Regions from separate parts of the Homo sapiens genome. Here region 1 is linked to region 2. The links come from fine-mapping of genetic effects on gene expression. A gene starts in region 2. The other region holds a variant in brackets. All regions are shown on one strand. Distances are between the middles of the regions. Region 1 overlaps RDX (radixin). Region 2 holds the start of RDX (radixin).

Region 1 (5,533 bases), 60 kb after region 2:
CATTATCTCTCTTTGCCTGTGCCTTTGAGGTCTTACACAAAAAATCTTTGCCTAGACCAATGTCCTTCTTTCACTTCTTTGGTTAGATTGATTCCTAGGTGTTTTACTTTTTTTTTTTGGCTATGGTAAATGGAATTGCTTTCTTGGTTTCTTTTTCAGATTGTTTACTGTTGTTATATATAAATAGCTACTGATTTTTTTTTTTAATTTTAGTTTTTAAGAAGAGATGATGTCTCACTCTGTTGACCAGACTGGTCTCAAACTCCTGGCCTCAAGCGGTCTTCCCACCTTTCCCTTCGAAAGTGCTGGGATTACAGGCGTGAGCCTAACCAAAGCCTAACCAAAGAGTCATTCTTCTCCAACCCTCTCAAAACCTTCCAAGTGTTTTTTTTGTTTTTTTTTTTTTTTTTTGAGACAGAGTCTTGCTCCGTCGCCCAGGCTGGAGTGCAGTGGTGCAATCTTGGCTCACTGCAGCCTCCGCCTCCTGGGTTCAAGAGATTCTTCTGCCTCAGCCTCCCCAAGTAGCTGAGATTACAGGCGCCCATCACCATGCCTGGCTAATTTTTGTATTTTTAGTAGAGTCGGGATTTCACCAGGTTGGCCAGTCTGGTCTCAAACTCCTGACCTCAAATGATCCACCCACCTCAGTCACCCAAAGTGCTGGGATTACAGGCATGAGCCACAACACCTGGCCTAAAACCTTCCAAGTCTTAACTGCAATTACTCAACTAGTTCTGATCAAGACCAAGAAAATTAAGAACAGTAAGTAAAAGCTTGTAAGTTACAGTTAGCTTTCAAATTTCATGACATATAGATTTTCTTAGTATACAGTAAGGGAAAATAATTCTTTGTAGGACCTTGTACTGTCTTACTAGGTGGCATTCTATTGTCTTCTGTCACAGGGCTTAAATAATTGTCAAAATAATATTTAAAGTTAGTACTGTTAAACTCTCTTAAAAATTTATTTTCCTTTCCTGTTCAACTCATTGGAATAAGAAAAGAGTTGATTTAGTGATCTATGCACCTAAGGATTAAAATTCATGTTATTTATCTCCCAATATTGCTTATCTTCATGCTTTAGGAATGAATATATACCAATAACTCACATTTTTCAATAATTCATATAATCACATCAAAATTCCTATTTTGGGGTCAGTAAATACTGTTTTCAATCTTAATTTCTTGGATTTACTTATTAGTTTAGATAAGTAAAACCTTAATGGAAGTTTTGAAATGTATTATAGATTTCTGAAACATGGCAATTTGTTTACTGAGGTCAAAACTTCAGATGGAGAGATTATTTTTTAAAAATAAAATAGTTACGTGCTTGTAGCCTTTTTACATAACTTGAATTGCAGAAGATTTTCATTTCTCTTTAAAAATTATTAGGCTTTTGCCAAGTTGGAAACGAGGTATAGCGCCTGTAGTCCTAGCTACTTGGGAGGCTGAGGCGGGAGGATTGCTCGAGCCCATGAGTTCGAGGCTGCAGTGAGCTTCTGCACTTCAGCCTGGGCAACAGAGCGAGACCCTGTCTCAAGAAAACAAAGAGGTATATATGTATTTACATGTGTGCTAACTTTTAGAAATTGAACAGATTTGATTTCTTGCTACTATTTTAGCTTCTTTTGATAATGAGAATGATTGGAATTAATCACTGTTGGGGGGAATACACATATTTCATAGAACTAGAAGAACAGACTCGAAAAGCTCTAGAACTGGATCAAGAACGAAAACGAGCAAAAGAAGAAGCAGAACGACTTGAAAAGGAGCGTCGAGCTGCTGAAGAGGCAAAGTCTGCCATAGCAAAACAAGCTGCCGACCAGATGAAGAATCAGGAGCAGCTAGTAAGGAACTGTCTTCTTAGAGAAAAAAGTTTAAATAAAAGCATAGAGTGAACCCTCTAAAAAAGAAAAAAAGAAAAGCAACCATTTTGTGCTTTCTGGAGAGCAAGCCAAAGATAACATGTAACTTAATAACAAAATGTAGACAAAAACCTAGAAAATTTATTTCTGCCTAAACAAAAACCTAAAAATACAAAAGAATAAGGCATTTTTCTATAGATTATTTGTAAATGGAGTCTACTGTCAGCAAAAGGTTCTGATTCACTTTGACATTGGACAGGTTCGGTAATAAGTCAGTTGGCGTCTTTTGCTTTAGATAAATTAATATGTTATAGTTATATAATATAGATATATGTTATAGTTATATA[ATATAT/T]TATAGATATATAATATGTTATAGTTCCTATGAGGCCATAATTGGTTGGGTTTTTTTATTTAGTGGACTTGCAAATAATTAGATGTAAGCGTGTCACTTAAAAGATCCTGGATTTAAATATTAGTTCACACATGTACTTGCTATGTATGTGTCTTTGGGTCTTTCTGAGCCTCAGTTCCCTCCCTTTGAAAAGAGGAATGATGGCCGGGCACAGTGGCTCACGCCTGTAATCCCAGCATTTTGGGAGGCCGAGGCAGGTGGATCACCTGAGGTCAGGAGTTCAAGACCACCCTGACCAACATGGCGAAACCCTGTCTCTACTAAAAATACAAAATTAGCCAGGCACAGTGGTGCACGCCTGTAATCCCAGCTACTCGGGAGGCTGAAGCAGGAGTATTGCTTGAACCTGGCAGGCGGAGGTTGCGGTGAGCTGAGATTGTGCCACTGGGCTCCAGCCTGGGTGACAGAACGAGACTCTGTCTGAAAAAAAAAAAAGGAGGAATGATACTACCTGTTAATGATACTACCTGTTAGGATTATTGGGGTATTAAATGAGATGATTTGACAAAGTGCCATTTAAAGTATATAGCATTAGATAAATATTTTATCTTTTGTGGACTTTAACAAATAGTTTATTGATGGAAATTTTTTAAAAAAGCTTTTAAGTTACACATTTTAAGTTCCTGCTACTGAAAGCAGGATTAACTAGTCTGTAGAATAATAGTAATTTTTTAATTTTGTCTCCTTAGCTCATTACCTAAAGGACTTATTGTAAATAAGCTATTTAAGATCTTAAGAAATACTGTATTTTTTTAAATGGAAGGCTAAGAAAAACATAAACAGCCTAAGCATGTGCATTAAAACTTTGTTGACTTATAAGATTATTCAAAATATGTTATTTTAATTTTGGAATTATATTGTTTACTTTAGGCAGCAGAACTTGCTGAATTCACTGCCAAGATTGCACTTCTAGAGGAAGCCAAGAAGAAAAAGGAAGAGGAAGCTACTGAGTGGCAACACAAAGTAATCATTTATTCATTTACTAGCTTTTATTGAATAGCTTTTATACCCAGGATTATGCTGACTTTGTAGTGATAAGTGTAAGATACTGTCATAATTTAGAGTGGGAAAGATACTCGTGTTATGTGTATTGTAAATATCTATCTACAGATATAAACCAAGTACTTTGGGAACACAGAAGAGGTGATTAATTTCTGGGGGACCAGAGAGTTGTCGGGAGACCCATATACATTTAAGCTGGGTCTTGAATAATGAATTAAATTTTGGGGGTACAAAAGATTGGGATGTAAAATTGGGAATAGTTAGAGACTGAAGAAGTAGTCATTCTAGACAGAGGGAACTGAATGAGTATAGGAAGTATGAATGTATATAATAGATTTGAGGATAACCAATAAGCAGCCGAGGCTTAGTGTTGTTCAGAAATGTTAGGAGATGTGGCCCTCAAGTTTGATAATAGGGAATTGTGAAAGGCTTTAAATAAATGCTCTGCTACAGCAAGGCAGTGGGAGTATCGATTGACTTGGGGCTTAGAAGATTTCAAAACAGGATTGTAACATGATCAGATATGATTTTATAAAAACCATGTAGTGATCAGTGTGAAGAAAGGATTGGGATAGTGGATACTTAAGAGATAAAGACCCAAACTGAGGATGTGAAAATGAGAATAAAGAGGAATGGGAAGATATAAGAGACATTTTGTGGTCACAAAAAGGCATGGGAACCAGTGATTGGATATGAAGTTGAATTATTTTTATTTTTTTAGAGACATGGTCTTACTCTGTGTCCCAGGCTGGAGTGCAGTGGCACAATCATAATTCATTGCAGCTTTGAACTCCTGGGCTCAAGGGATCCTCCCACCTCAGCCTCTGCAGTAGCCGAGACTACAGGCATGCACCATCATTTTTATTTTTGTTGAGAATGGAGGTCTTGCTGTGTAACCCAGGTTGGTCTTGAACTGCTGGCCTCAAGCAGCCCTCCCATCTCAGCCCCCAAAGTGCTGGGATTGTAGGTGTAAGCCACTGTGTGCAGCTGACACCGAGATTTCTAATATGAGTCCTAAGTAGATGAAACCACTGTTGTCTAAAGTAGCACACAATTGTAAAATCAGGCTTTGGTTGGAGAGTGGGGGAATATAAGATAATGAGAGTTTAATTCAAACAACATTAACTCTTAACTGAAAAGATAATTTTTTTACCCCCAAAGATGATATTTAGTTTTAGAAGATGATTTTTCTACAATAAAATGTACTTATACAGAAAACAGTTTTCTTGCACTCTTAAGTAAATCTTTGTAGCAGTTTAAATTTCATTGGGTAATTTTATATGTATTGAAAATTAGTTATATATAAATAAAACTACAAAAGGAATGCTACTGTTAATTTCCCAGTTACTCTACTTGTTTATTAGAATTTTTTAGATCCCTTTTAGGGATGATTTATGAAATTTAGAGACACATAAACTTTAAAAAATTAGCATATTACAGATATCAAGTCTGTGAATTATAGAAAATTAGAAAATGCACACAAAAGACAATTGTATTCCCATAAACTAGGGGAAATACTGCAAAACCTTAGTACATATTCTTCCAGGATACTTCCTGTTTATATATTCAACATGAAATCTTACTGTATGTACTATTTCATTTTAGTCAATTTTCATCTCAGAATATTAGACTATATTAAGAATTTCCCAAAAAGTCTCATAGCTAATTTGCCAGACAAGTGTTCAGAGGACTTTGCATTGTCTGTATTTGCTGTAAGTCTCTTTTAATGGAGGGCAGTTTCTCTTTTTATTATTTTGATTTATTGAAGGGACCTACAGAATGTCTCACCTCCTATATTTGTTTAGTTACTTCCTTGTGTCATTGACCTTATCCTTTAACTCCAGTATTTCCTTTGAACCAGAAGTTAGATCTAGAACCTGGGGAATTCAAATTAAATGTTTTGACTACAGTGCATCAAAGGTGAGACTTCCATATAATTGAACATCTAAACTGGAGTACTTTTGAGAAAAAGGGGGTATTGTTCATAATTACACCAGGACAACAGTGTAACAGGACTTTTCCAGGTAAACCAAGATAATATGATCACCCAAATAATTGGTGATGTTAGATATTTCAGGTTGTATCATATCAGAAGACACTTAATATCTAGTTAACTCACCATTAGTATTTTTTAGTGATCATTGGATTTGAGTAACGACAGTCTCATTCCTCCGTTATTCGGTTACATTTTCCCCTTGTGGCTCAAATAAAATCTATTGGGTGTGAGATTCTTAGGCATTATATGAATATCTATTTC
Region 2 (5,000 bases):
TTGGCCAGGATAGTCTCGGTCTCCTGACCTCATGCTCTGCCCGCCTCAGCCTCCCAGGAAGTGCGGGGATTACAGGCATGAGCCACCATGCCCTGCCATGAAAGTTCTTAGGGGTTGAATCACAGTGCCAAATAGCTTTATAAAGAGATTATTTCAGTTTACACTCCCACTCACCATGTCTGAGAGTACCCTTTTTATCTCACCAGCCTTGACTGTTATCTTTCACTTAAATATTTACTAATAGGATACCCAACTAAAATGTTGCAATTTTTGGTCTGTTTGCTGTTGCAGAAGATAGGATAAAATCAAGGCTTTTGGAGTCAAACATATATTTGGGTTTGGTCACTGCTCTGCCACTTCCTAGTTTTGTTACATTGGGGAAATTACTTACCTCTTTTTAAGCTGTCTTATTCATCGATTTTTTTTAAAGGGTCAATAATAGTATTTATCCCAGAGGGTTTTTGTAACCATTAAAAGAGACAGTCATGTAAAAGAATTTCACACCAGTGTCTGGCACCTGACCAACAACAGTGAATCCTTCACTTTCAGTTGCAAAAGTGTGTTATATAATTTCATTTGATTAGTGTACTATGTAGGAATTTACATAATACTTTTTTTTCTTACCTACTTCATGGGAAGTATTACGTAATACTTTGACTATGCCTGCAACCTGATGTGGTAGGCTGAACAATAACCAGGATAATTCTTGCACCCTAGGGAGAGGTAAGGAGTGATCTTTTGGTGGTCCCTAAGAACCACAAGAACCTATTTGGTCGCAAGTCACACACCTGGTTCCCATCCTTGAGGAATTTGCTATCTAAAGGCCCTTGAGTTTAACCCTTGAGTCTCTTGGGGGCTTTTAATTGTTCGGAGAGGTCTCAAAGGGCAATAGTGGAAACTCACTGAAGAGGCAGGCTAGTGAAAGTGATTTGCAGATATTTCCTGGAAAAGCTACTGTCTCACCTAAGGTAAATGCTAAGGCAGGAAGTATAGGAGTTATTTGTCCTATAAAAGTAAGTATACTCAGGCGTTTTGTTATTTGAATCTAAAGTTTGTTCACAAAAGATAAGCTAAAAAAAGTATTGCAAACAGGGCAAGCCAGGCGAATCTGATTTTGTGCGCTTGCTGTTTGTATACTCATAGCAAGTTTTGCTCCCTGAATCATCCCAGCAGACAATACTGAGGGGACTCAGCATGGATTAGATGACAGAAGACTGATCCAGAAGTCAGGAGCTTCCTGTCTCATCCCAGCCACTAACTAAAGTGAGTGGGCTAGACTTAGTCTTAAGATCGAATGCCTAACTTTCTCTAAATCTAGAATTATGTAGGTTTGGCGGCTCTTTGGGGCCCTACTTCCAACTTTTTCTTGCTAACCAACTCCTTCCAACTGCCAAAGCATGTCGTTGGTAATAAAAAATTATCACACATCCTTGCTTGGATTAAAATTTGCACTCCTGATTTGGGGTCTTATCCATTGAGGTTTTGGTGAAGTTTGAAAATTGTCGCTGAAAAATTAAGTTTTTCTAGTTGGCTAAAACCTGCCAAAATAATGTAAACGTTCTTTGTTGCAAATCTAAATTCCGCTCAGGTAGGCCCTTTTCTCCTTCCCAGTCCAGGATCTTCAAACCTAACAGCCAAGTCTCACGCTTCATTTGGTCCCCGGCTCCCTCTGGGAAGAATTCCTCCTCTGGGGGCGACGGCAACGCCCTCAGTGAGTTTGCTGGCACCAGCGGGAGTTTCAAGTTTCCACTCGTTGGGGAGGCGGCGGGCACACTCCGAGCTTTGGGCTGGGCGGCTCCGCTTCCCTCGACCGCAGGTTTAGCTGGAGCCCAGCGCTCTCTGGAAGGGCTCGACCCTCCGGCGCATTCGCCCTATTTCCCTGGGCGCTCCCGAGCCCGCAGCCACCCACCTCGCGTTGGCCGGCCCCAGACCGCGACCCCCGGCCACGCCCGGAGCCAGGCCTGCGGCTGCGAGCCTGCGGGAGGGGCGGGGCGGGGGCGGCCCCCAGCGGCGGCGTTGGCGCTCAGTCCGCGGCGCGAGGACGGCCGGCCGGCAGGGGGAGGCGGGGGGGCGCCGGGCAGCCCCGCCTTTTCCCGCGGAGGCGCCGAGCGGCCATATTGCGGAGCTGTCTGCGGTGGCGGCGGCGCCTCTCGTCTCCCGCGGGCCAGCGCTCGCACCACCGCTTCTCCCTCCCTGTCGCAGCCGCGCCGCCGCGCAGCGCCCCAGCCACACGCCGGCGGGCAGAAGCCGCCCGCTCTCCGGGTAAGGCGCGGCGCCCTCCCTTCCCCCACTCCCCGCTCCCGGTTCCTCCGGAGACGCTAAGGTGGCGGCGCGAAGTTGCGGGGCCCGTGCTGCCCGGCCGTGGCGCCGCCGCCAGGGCTTGGCGCGCCTCCGCTCGCGCCCAGCTGGCCGAGGCGCCACTGTGGTAACGGCCCGGCCGGCCAGGCTCCTCCCGGGGCTGGTAGGGGCCGCGAGGCCCTGCCCGAGTCGTGGCTGAGCCGCGGCCCGAACGTGCCTGGCCGGGCCAAAGTCGACCTTCGCCGCCGCGGGATTCTCCTTTCCTCGGGGCGCGGAGTCTGCCTTCAGCGCCGGTGTCGGACCCCCAGCGCCCTGGGGACGGTGGGCTCCCGCTGCCTGGACTGGGCCCCGGGCCCGGGCTGGCATGGTCCCAAGGGTTGTTTGAAAATCCAGATATTCAGCGTAGGTAGAATTCGATTTTACATTTATTAGAACTTGTTCCCCGGCCTCCAGTTTGAAAGGAGGGGTGTTAAATTACTAGAGAGCGTGCGTTCCGCCCCAGTGGCAAAGGGGATGTTGCATGACAGGCTTTGGGGCGCCAGTCGCTCCCGCCGCTCGCACCCGCCAGGCCAGGGCCGCGGTTCCCGGCCGCAGCTCTACCTGCTGCTGTTGCAGCTCTCGGAGCCCTGTAACTTTCTCGGGCCCTTGAGGCCGCTCAGTTTTAGTGTCTCAGACCCCACCAGACAAGTTCAGTACATGATATCCCTCTTTTCCTTTAAAGGATTCTAAACTCAATTCCCGGACTAACTTTGAAAGGGGGCAGTGCATTTTTGTTTTTTTTTTTTTTTCAGTTTAAACAGACTACATCACTTCCTAGACAGATGTCATGTTTCTTCAGACATTCCCAATATTTGGTGGTTTTTTTTTTTCCTTAAAGAGTAGTTACTAGGTTGGAAATGTGTTAAAAGTCAACTTCATAAAAATATATTTTAAAATACATTTGAGATTTTGGTGGAAGACACGTTGCTGAGGAACTCGATGGCATTCTTGTGGCACTAAGACTGGCAGGATGTAAATATAAAAGTCTAAGATAATAAGGGTTTATTTGATAAACGAGTACTTTGACATAGACATTGTAATCTATTGTTTAAGGAGCATACTTCTTTTTTTTTTTTTTTTTTTAGAACACTAAATACTCTTTTATATGACTGATGGAGCTAAGAAGGAACAATTACCCCGTTCATGTTGCTGGATAAATAATGGCTTGATCCATTTGCCAAAACAGCATCACTGGATTTGAGAAAGGAGACTAATATTCAGGATTGCAGTTTTTTATTTTCAGAATTTCTTTGCTTTCCCCAGTGTGCTTTATCTTCCAGAGATTAATAATACTTTCCTTCAAATACAGCAACATGTAAAACACTCCTTTTGAAGTTAATCGTATGCTGTAAAGACGATTGCAGTGACTTTCTTTGCTTAATCGCTTTTTTATATATGATGGAATTTAATAAACAGTTGGTATATTATTAGCAAGGAATGAATAGACATTGGCATTCTTTACAGTTTTATTTAAATGAGACAGAATTTGATTGTGGCATTGAAAAAACGTTGAGTTCTTGACCTTAGGAATCACATACAATGTTTTGTTCACTCCTGTATCCCCACACATGGAAGAGTATGTAGGAGAGTCTCAGAAGTAGCTGTAGAATAGATGTAATTAATTTGGGTGTAGGGAAAATACGTTGAGTCTGTCCTTTTGTTTTTTTTTTTGAAATTGTGATTAATTAACTGAAAGTCAAATTGATTACTTTCCTTTTGTTGGTAAGAAATGACAGACTTTGCTGTTGTTTCCCTCCCTTGCTGAGTCTCATTAGTCTCCGGGATGGGGAACGCGTTGTCTTTTGTTTATTGGTTCACTGTTCCCAAAAGCAGAATTGGATTTTTTTTTTAAGTCGATAAATTTTTACTCAAGGAATTCCATGTTGTGATTTCTTCCACTGTCCATCAAGGTCACTTTAGATCCTCTAAAGAGCTAGAGTCAAAAGATTTATCTTCAAGTTAGTCCTTTTTAATGAAACCGATGCTTATTTTAATCCAGTTAGCCCATCTCGCTCTGTCTCCCAGGGTGATATGCAGTGGCATGATCTTGGCTCACTGCACCTCCGCCTCCTGGGTTCAAGTGATTCTTGTACCTCAGCCACCCGAGTAGCTGGGACTACAGGCGTGCGCCACCATGCCCGGCTAATTTTTGCATTTTTAGTAGAGACGGGGTTTTGCCATGTTGGCCAGGCTGGTCTGGAACTCCTGGACCTCCGGCGTTCTGCCCGCCTCGGCCTCCCAAAGTGCTGGGATTACAGGCATGAGCCGCTGCGCCCGGCCAGAATTGGATTTTATTATTCATTTTTTATCTTTGGCAGGCTGTTGAAGTGAAAGTCTTTATATATTTTTATTTTGCTTTCAGTTCTCAATCTTTTAACCTACTATGTGTGATCTGATATAATAGTCTGAAATGGTAAATGATGGTGAGAGTCTTGTTTTTTCATCCATTTTTAATTTAATGCATTTTAATTTATGCTACTAATGTTTAAAAACGGGGTCAAATTTTAACCAATATTTCCTGTAGGCCAAAGTCTAAAAAAATCTGTTTTATTAAGGTTGTGAAAACTGAGCTATATGCTGCTGGAGTTTATATGTAAGGTGTAGATAAATATAATTTCGTGTTACTTCTGTGCATCGGGGAAGTCAAGCAAGTCACTGTTGGG

The links.
Region 1: its variant is fine-mapped to the expression of RDX in blood mononuclear cells (TOPMed, PIP 0.91).

The regions. Positions count from the first base shown.
Region 1 is chr11:110,233,803-110,239,335 of GRCh38, reverse strand. It overlaps RDX (radixin), which reads left to right. Exons shown (of 14, transcript NM_002906.4): 11 at 1,684-1,844; 12 at 3,145-3,237. Among named protein-coding and RNA genes, the nearest start is that of RDX, 60 kb to the left of the region's middle. The variant ATATAT/T (reference allele first, on the strand shown) is at 2,210.
Region 2 is chr11:110,293,729-110,298,728 of GRCh38, reverse strand. It overlaps RDX (radixin), which reads left to right and starts at 2,115. Exons shown (of 14, transcript NM_002906.4): 1 at 2,115-2,262. RefSeq lists silencers at 1,733-2,532, 2,583-2,632, 2,643-2,742, 2,873-2,932 and an enhancer at 2,146-3,018.